2 linked regions of the Homo sapiens genome follow. The protein of the gene in region 1 purifies or fractionates together with the protein of each later gene. This does not show direct contact. Each region holds a gene or a part of one and is shown in the gene's direction. Other genes may lie near its edges.

Region 1 (3,824 bases):
AAAACGTATTACAAAAGATTGAGTAGAAGCAGATATGAGAGTCCAGCTATCTTCTTTTTTAATTTTTTGTTTTTATTTATTTATTTTTAAGAGACAGAGTCTCACTCTGTTACCCAGATTGGAGCTCAGTGGCACAACAACAGTTCACTGCAACCTCAAACTCCTGGCCTCAAGTGATCCTTCTGCTTCAGCTTCCTGAGTAGCTGGGACTACAGGCCTCTGCCACCCTACCTGGCTAATTTAAAAAATATATTGTTTTCTAGAGACAGGGTCTTGCTATTTTGCCCAGGCTAGTTTTGAACTCCTGGCCTCAGGTGATCCTCCCACTTTGGTCTCTCAAAGTTCTGAAATTACAGGCGTGAACCACCAAACCTGGTCTCAGCTGTCTTCCATTAAGCCAGATGTTAATGAGATTTGTAAAAAATCTATATGCAACTCCTTTTTCTAATTTGTTTTTGTTTTGGAAAGTCATTTTTCAATACAAATGTGGTATTTAAAATGCAATAGGATTATTGTTATTAAATTAATGTTTAAAAATTTTTCAGTTTTAATTTTGATACAGAAAATATTTCTAGATATAATTCATGAAAACAATCAAACAAAAAGAAATTCTCAATAATTTTTTAGACTATGAAGAGGTCAAAAGACCCAAAAATTTGAGGCCCCCTCTCTGTAGAGGCCCCTCCCTGACCTCCCTATATAAAATAGCATTACCATCTCTCCCTGTCTCTATGCTGTGTGATATGTACCACCTCTTGGCATATTTTATATTGATCTGTTTATTATTTGTCTCCCTCCAGTGGAATGTAAGCTCCACAAGGGATAGAAATTAATCTATTTTGTTCATTGCTGTTATTCCCAGCATCTAGAACAGTGCCTGAATAATAGTAGGTATTAAACAGACATTTAGTGAGTGAATAAGTTAAAATTTTTCTCATAGAATCCTGTTTTCTATTTTCCTCTGCCTTGAATTCTACTTGTTTGATTTGATGCCTTTCTTACATGGTGGTAGATTTTCTTATTAACTTTAAGATTTATTATTGATTTTATTTTATTGAACTTATCTTTAGAAGAACTTATCTCTCCTGGCTGTTCGACATATTCCTTTGATAGAAAAGATGTCCCTAAGAAGCAGTTTCACCCCTGCTGCCAGGGCCTCACAGGTTTCCCCTGTTAAGGACCAGTTTTTATGTTAAATTCTGAGCTCAAGATTTCTGCACTGTATGGATAAGAGAATCTCAGGGTTCAAATTCTCAGGATATGACTCGTTTTCCACTCATGGCTCAATGGGATATAGCTCACTTATACACTGCATCTCTAGGGCAACAGGTGGAGTTTTTTATCCATCTTTCGTAACTGGCATAGATATTTCTCAATTCCTGGCAGTACAATGAGTCCAACCCTGGCTCTCTTTGCCTGTGATTTTTGTTCTTATGTGGGCATTTAAAGCCTAATCCCTAATGCCTGTATCCTTTCTGAAAGATGCTCCTGTGGGCTTGAATTTTATCACCATCCTTACACTGAGCTGTCTATTTGTTTCTTGCATGAAGATTTCCCTCCTCCTTTTGGCTTAGCTATGTAAATGATAAATATTTTAAATGTAGTTAGATTTTATCTAGCATTTCTCTTTGTTTGGAGTAGAAAGTAAGTCCTTTCTACTTTTGCTTTTACTGCCATATTAACCATAATTCTGCACTATAAAACTCTTCAATGCCTCACGTTGTCATTCTTGAGTTCTTATTTTTTTATTTGTTTTTTGATGAGTCTGTAATTGTAATTTTGTAGGAGGAAGTTGTGAATGACAGATCTTCTAAGCTATTAATATCTGAAATTTCTGTTATCTTCACACTTGCATGGAAACTTGTCTGTACAGAATTATTGAGTCAAACCTTTTTTTACAACATTTTGTGGATCTAGCACTATTATATTCTGAAATTTATTAATGCAGAAGAGAAGTATTGAAGTCAACCTGGTTTTTAAAAATCCTATTTTAAGGTAACCTGTTAGGTTTTGTTTTCTTCCCTGATTGCTTTTATGATTTTAAACAATCTATAATTCCAAATTTGGTACAGATATGGTTTTTTTTTTCTGGAACAAGGGTGAGCCTTCCATTTTAACCTCAGCTATTATTTCATAGAGTTTGTTTTCAATACACCCATTTCTTATAATTTAGAAGAGCTTTATTCTCTTTTCTCTGAATTGAATCCTCAGAAGTCTGGGAAAACTTTGTATCCTTTACATCCCTAATTCTATTTTTTGCAGTATTAGTTTTAGTTATTTAATGCTCTCTGCAAATTTAAATCATGTGTTGTCTTCTCTTTTTTAACACTCTAATTTTTAAAAATTTCAGCTTGTTCTGTTTTTATCTTTCTCTGCTATGTCCTTCCTTGCTCTTGTTTTCTAGTGGACATGTCTTTGTTTGCATCCTTTTAAGAACAGTAAGTAATTGATTACAATTTTTTTTTCATCCTGTGCTCTTCACTGTAATCTTTTGGATAATTCTCTTTATCTCTTCTGTTAACAGTATTTTTCATAGGGTTCATGTTGTTATTCTGTGAGATTTGTTCAGACCTGCAATTTGCCTATAAATACAATATATAAATTGTTTTTTGTCCTGTTCTCATTTTCTTGAATACTGGAAGAATCAACTACTTTCTTAGAGCTAAAGCTGATTGACAAGCTGATGTGAGTACCCCCAGCCCAATTTCTAGTGTTCTTGTAGTGTAGCTTTATTGCCTGAGATATGATTATTTCTTGCACATGTGCCAAGTTTTCTTATTTGTTGAGGAAGATGTATGTTTTAAAGAATGTGTGACATTTTATAGTTCTTCCATTAAAAGCAGTGCATGAATAAACACTACCTCAGCATCCCTTTGTTTTGTATCCTAAGATGTGTGGTGATAGGTAAGGTAAGGTACTGCCACCTGAGTTGTCAAATAACACAGAAGTTATCTTACTTTAAAGTTGCTCCCCAGGAAGAGTCTTTCAGATTAAAACGTATCAGTACAAGATGTTCTTGACCGGTCAGTATTTGTGCTTTGCTGGTCTTTCCCTAATCAGATTACTGTCTCGCTGAGATGAGCAGCTTTGGAGGAATAGGAGTTTTATTTGAGGAAAAGAGGAAGAATAATTTTGCAGTTTAGGGGTTATTTTGAAAAGAGTTGACTGTGGACTTTGGAACAGGAGGTGAGTTCTGAAAAGGTGAGTGGGAAGGATCAAAGGCAACTGGCGACTTACAGCTGTACCTGTGATCTGATGCTGATAGGAAGAATTTCTCGTGTAGGCTTTGTTGCATATATGGTCTCATGGATTGTTATTGCCTGAATTCATATTTCAAGATAAGTTAAAAGGCTGTATACCTCAGTTTCCTTTGTTCAGATGAGTTCCACAGTTTCAAATGTAGTCTAATTTCTTCTGGTTAAAAATTCCTCCCAAGAGAGATAGAGGAAGGAAAGGGAGAGATGGGACCACCACAGTGAGCAAATGGATCAGATTATTACTCTAAAATGTTCTTTTCGTTCTGAGCTCCCGCTCCTCCCCGTCTTTACTAAGATTTCTCGCTTATGTTCCTACTGGAAAAGTGGGTTTTATTCCTGGGAAATTCTGAGGCCTTCTACCATTATATTTGGTGAACATGCAGTAGATTACTTTTCAAAATTAAGATAGTTTGATTGTTTTAACTCTTTATAAAAGTAGTGTTTATTTATTGCAAATTATTCCAAAAATAGAAATTGGCAAAAAGCAGAGTGAAAATCACCTATAATTCCACCACACGGTTAACATTTTCATAGGTTTTCTTTCAAAATTGTTTAAATGGATTTATA
Region 2 (3,824 bases), on another chromosome or scaffold:
CCACCACACCTGGCTGTTTGTTTGTTTTGAGCCTGTTCCTCAGGCTGGAGTGCAGTGGTCCAATCATGGCTTGCTGCAACTCCGCTTCCTGGGCTTAAGAGATCCTCCCACCTCAGCCTTCTGAGTAGCTAGGACTAAGGGCACCTGCCACTATGCCTGGCTAATTTCTAAAGTTTTTTTTATAGAGGCAGAGTCTCGCTGTTTTGCCCAAGCTGTTCTCAAATTTCTAGGCTCGTGTGATCCTCCTGCCTCAGCCTCCCAAAGTGCTGGGATTATAGGTGTGAGCCACCACACCTGGCTGATCTATCTGTCTTAAACTGGAGAATTGCATTTTTTTCTACCTCCTTTCTTTTTTTTAAAAAAACTGAATTTCCATCTGTTACCCCTCCCTTTCTGCTCCTCTTATTTCATGCCTTGGAAGTTATACTTTGCCTTCCTTTAATGAGTACCAAAGAAATTAAAAAATACATGTTTACTGTAAGTCCAGGCCTAAATGTTGCTACTACAGGGACCATCAAATGCTTTACTACCATCTATTGCCATCTGCAAATGTATGCCATTGTTGTTTAGTTTTGTAGTTCTTAATGTATTTTAATTAAACACCACAAATTATGCTTTTTGTTTGTTTTATTCAGTCAGTAGATGCTTAGAATACTTGCTTATTTTACCAATTCCTTTGCTTATTCCACTCCTTTGTTCTGGGATTATTTTTCTTTTTCCTAATATATTTTCATTAAAAGTTTATTTGGTGAGAATCTAAAAACTCTCAAATTCTGAAAGTTTTAAAAATTTGCCTTTGTTGTTGAAAATTAGTTTTGATGGGTGAGAGAATCTAGATCAGGTGTTAGCAAACCTTTTTTTGTAAAGGGCCAGATAGTAAATATTGTGGGCTTTGTGGGCCATAGAGTCTCTCTGACAACTACTCAGCAATGCTGTTGTAGGACAAAAGCAACCATAGACATTATGTAAACATGAGTGTGGGTATGTTCTCACAAATTTTGTTTATAGACACTGAAATTTGACTCAATTTTCATGTGTTAAAAATTATTATTTTTTGAATTTTTTTAACCATATAAAAATGTAAAAATCATTCGTAGCTTGTAGACCAAATAAACAGGATGGATTTGACCTGTGGGCCATAGTTTGCTGACCTCTGGTCTAAATTAACATTCATTTTACTTAGTACCTGACACTGGAGTAATTATTCTTATGATGTCTTATTGTGATATTGTCTTCCATTTTTAATTGTTGAAGAGCCAGCTGTCAGTCTTTTTTGTTTTTCTTTTTCTTCTTCTTTTTTTTTTGAAATGGAGTTTTGCTCTTATCGCCCAAGCTGGAGTGCAGTGGTGTGATCTTGGCCCACTGCAACCTCTGCCTTCTGGGTTCAAGCGATTTTCCTGCCTCAGCCTCCCAAGTAGCTGGGATTACAGGTGCCTGCCACCACACCCAGCTAATTTTTGTATTTTTAGTAGAGATGGGGCTTCACCATGTTGGCCAGGCTGGTGTTGAACTCCTAACCTCAGGTGATCCACCTGCCTTGGCCTCCCAAAGTGCTGCAATTACAGGCATGAGGCACGGCGTCTGGCCTTTCTTTCCTTTTTTTTTTTTTTTGAGACGTAGTCTTGCTCTGTTGCCCAGGCCGGGGGGCGATGGTACGATCTTGGCTCATTGCAACCTCTGCTTCCCAAGTTCAAGCCATTCTCCTGCCTCAGCCTCCCAAGTAGCTGGGACTATAGGCACGTGCCACCATGCCGAGCTAATTTTTGTATATTTAGTAGAGACGGGGTTTCACCATGTTGTCCAGGCTGGTCTTGAACTCCTGACCTCAAGTGATCCTCTCGCCTTGGCCTCTCAAATAACTGTCCTTTCTTTGTTGGTAATCTGGTGATATGTTTTCTTGTTTGGCTGCTTTTAAGAGCTGCTTCTTGTCTCTGGTGCAGTTCGCTATGATGTATCTAAGTATGTATTTATTTTCATTTAACCTGGTCAGGATTTGTTGAGTATCCAGAAACTAAGGATTGGTGTTTCTCATTACATCTGGAAAAATTTGAGCCATTATTTTTGCTTATATTGTGGTATGTCATAGGAAGTTGAGAAAAGAAAAATTCATTTGATGGTTTTCTATGAGGTTATAGTGGAAAATAACTATCTCCCTTTTAGAATTGAGTGCTAGACAGTTTCTGTGTAGATGATCTCATAAGCTTCCTTTTATCAAACAGCGATCACTTTTTTGGTTTGGCTGCTGAGAAGTATGGCATCAAGTATAATACTCATATGAGGTGTTTAAGAACTGAGTATATTTCTTATGCACATTTTACTATATACTATAATTATACATTAAAAATGCACATTGTAAATATTATAAATATGTGTTATACATTGTTAATAGTTTGGATAGCAAAAGTATGACTTGACATTTGTTTTTTAAACCATATTTAAAGTAACTCTATCACAATATGGATTTAATGGATTAATTGCATAATTGGTGAGCTACTGATTATTCTTGTTATTTGGATGCTTCTTTAAGTTAGCAAGTTTATATTGTGGTGCTTCAATATAGACTACTTATTTCATTTCAGAGAACTCAATTTCCTGTATCTACTGAGTCTCAAAAACCCCGGCAGAAAAAAGGTCTGTATGCAGTTTCATGGTATGTGTATGTTTGCACAGACAGATTTCTCTTTTATTTATTTATTTATTTTTTTTTTTGGAGGCAGAGTCTCACTGTCACCCAGGCTGGAGTGCAGTAGCACAATCTTGGCTCACTGCAACCTTTGCCTCTGGGGCTCAAGCAATTCTCCTGCCTCAGCCTCCCGAGTAGCTGGGATTACAGGTGCACGCCACCACACCTGGCTAACTTTTGTGTTTTAGTAGAGATGAGGTTTCACTGTGTTTGCCAGGCTGGTCTCGAACTCCTGACCTCAGGTGATCTGCCCACCTTGGCCTCCCAAAGTGTTGGGATTACAGGCGTGAGCCGCCACGCCTGGCCAGATTTCTCTCTCTTGTTGATTCTTTTATCTATTCTATATTATTTCAAAATGAGTGTTGGGAAAAGAAGTAATAGTCTAAATGTTCTGTCACATCTAGCTTTTATTTAATAGAGTTATTAGATATTAGGAGGTTGGTTTGACCTGGAAATTATTTAAATGGGGTTTGATTATTATGTAAGTGTGTACTAATTTTCTGCTTCTGGAAAAACCACTTTGTGAAGTTCCAGGTATCTTTTTGCTTTGTTGGTTTCTAGTTTAATTCTATTGTGGGTAGAGAACATTCTTTATATGGTTTGTTTTATGGCCCACAATGTGGCCTGTGTTGGTGCATGTCCCATGTACACTTGGAAATAATGTGTATTCTGCTCTTGTAGGATGTAGCATTCTGTAAATGTCAATTAGGTCAAGTTGGTTGATAGTGTTCTGTATATACTTACAATTACAGATATTCATATTCTTACTGATGTAGTTACTGATTGGAAGGGTGATAGAAGAGTGTTGAAGTGTGCAAATGTAATTGTGGATTTGTTTCTACTTTCAGTTCTATCAATTTTTGATTTGTGTATTTTGAAGATCTGTTGTTGGATGCATATACATTTAGGATTGTCTGATTTCTTGGTAAATTGACCCGTTTGTCTTTATATAATATTCCTCTTCAATTTCTGATAATATTCCTTGTTTGAAGTCTACTTTGCCTGATAATATTTTAGTTTTAGTTATTTATTTAGCTATTTTAGTTTTGCTTTGGCCAGTCTTTGAATGGTATCAACATATAATTTTCGTAGAGTAAAATTCCCTTTTTTTAGTACAAATTCTGAGTTTCGACAAATGAAA

Evidence for each region.
Region 2: the proteins of CCDC172 (region 1) and BBS4 purify together in Homo sapiens (affinity purification with mass spectrometry; 2 studies listed by BioGRID and IntAct, with this or other methods). This does not show direct contact.

What each region holds. Positions count from the first base shown.
Region 1 is NC_000010.11:116,330,662-116,334,485, forward strand, and holds part of CCDC172 (coiled-coil domain-containing protein 172), read left to right. Parts: intron 1-3,824.
Region 2 is NC_000015.10:72,692,598-72,696,421, forward strand, and holds part of BBS4 (BBSome complex member BBS4), read left to right. Parts: intron 1-2,579; coding exon 2,580-2,631; intron 2,632-3,824.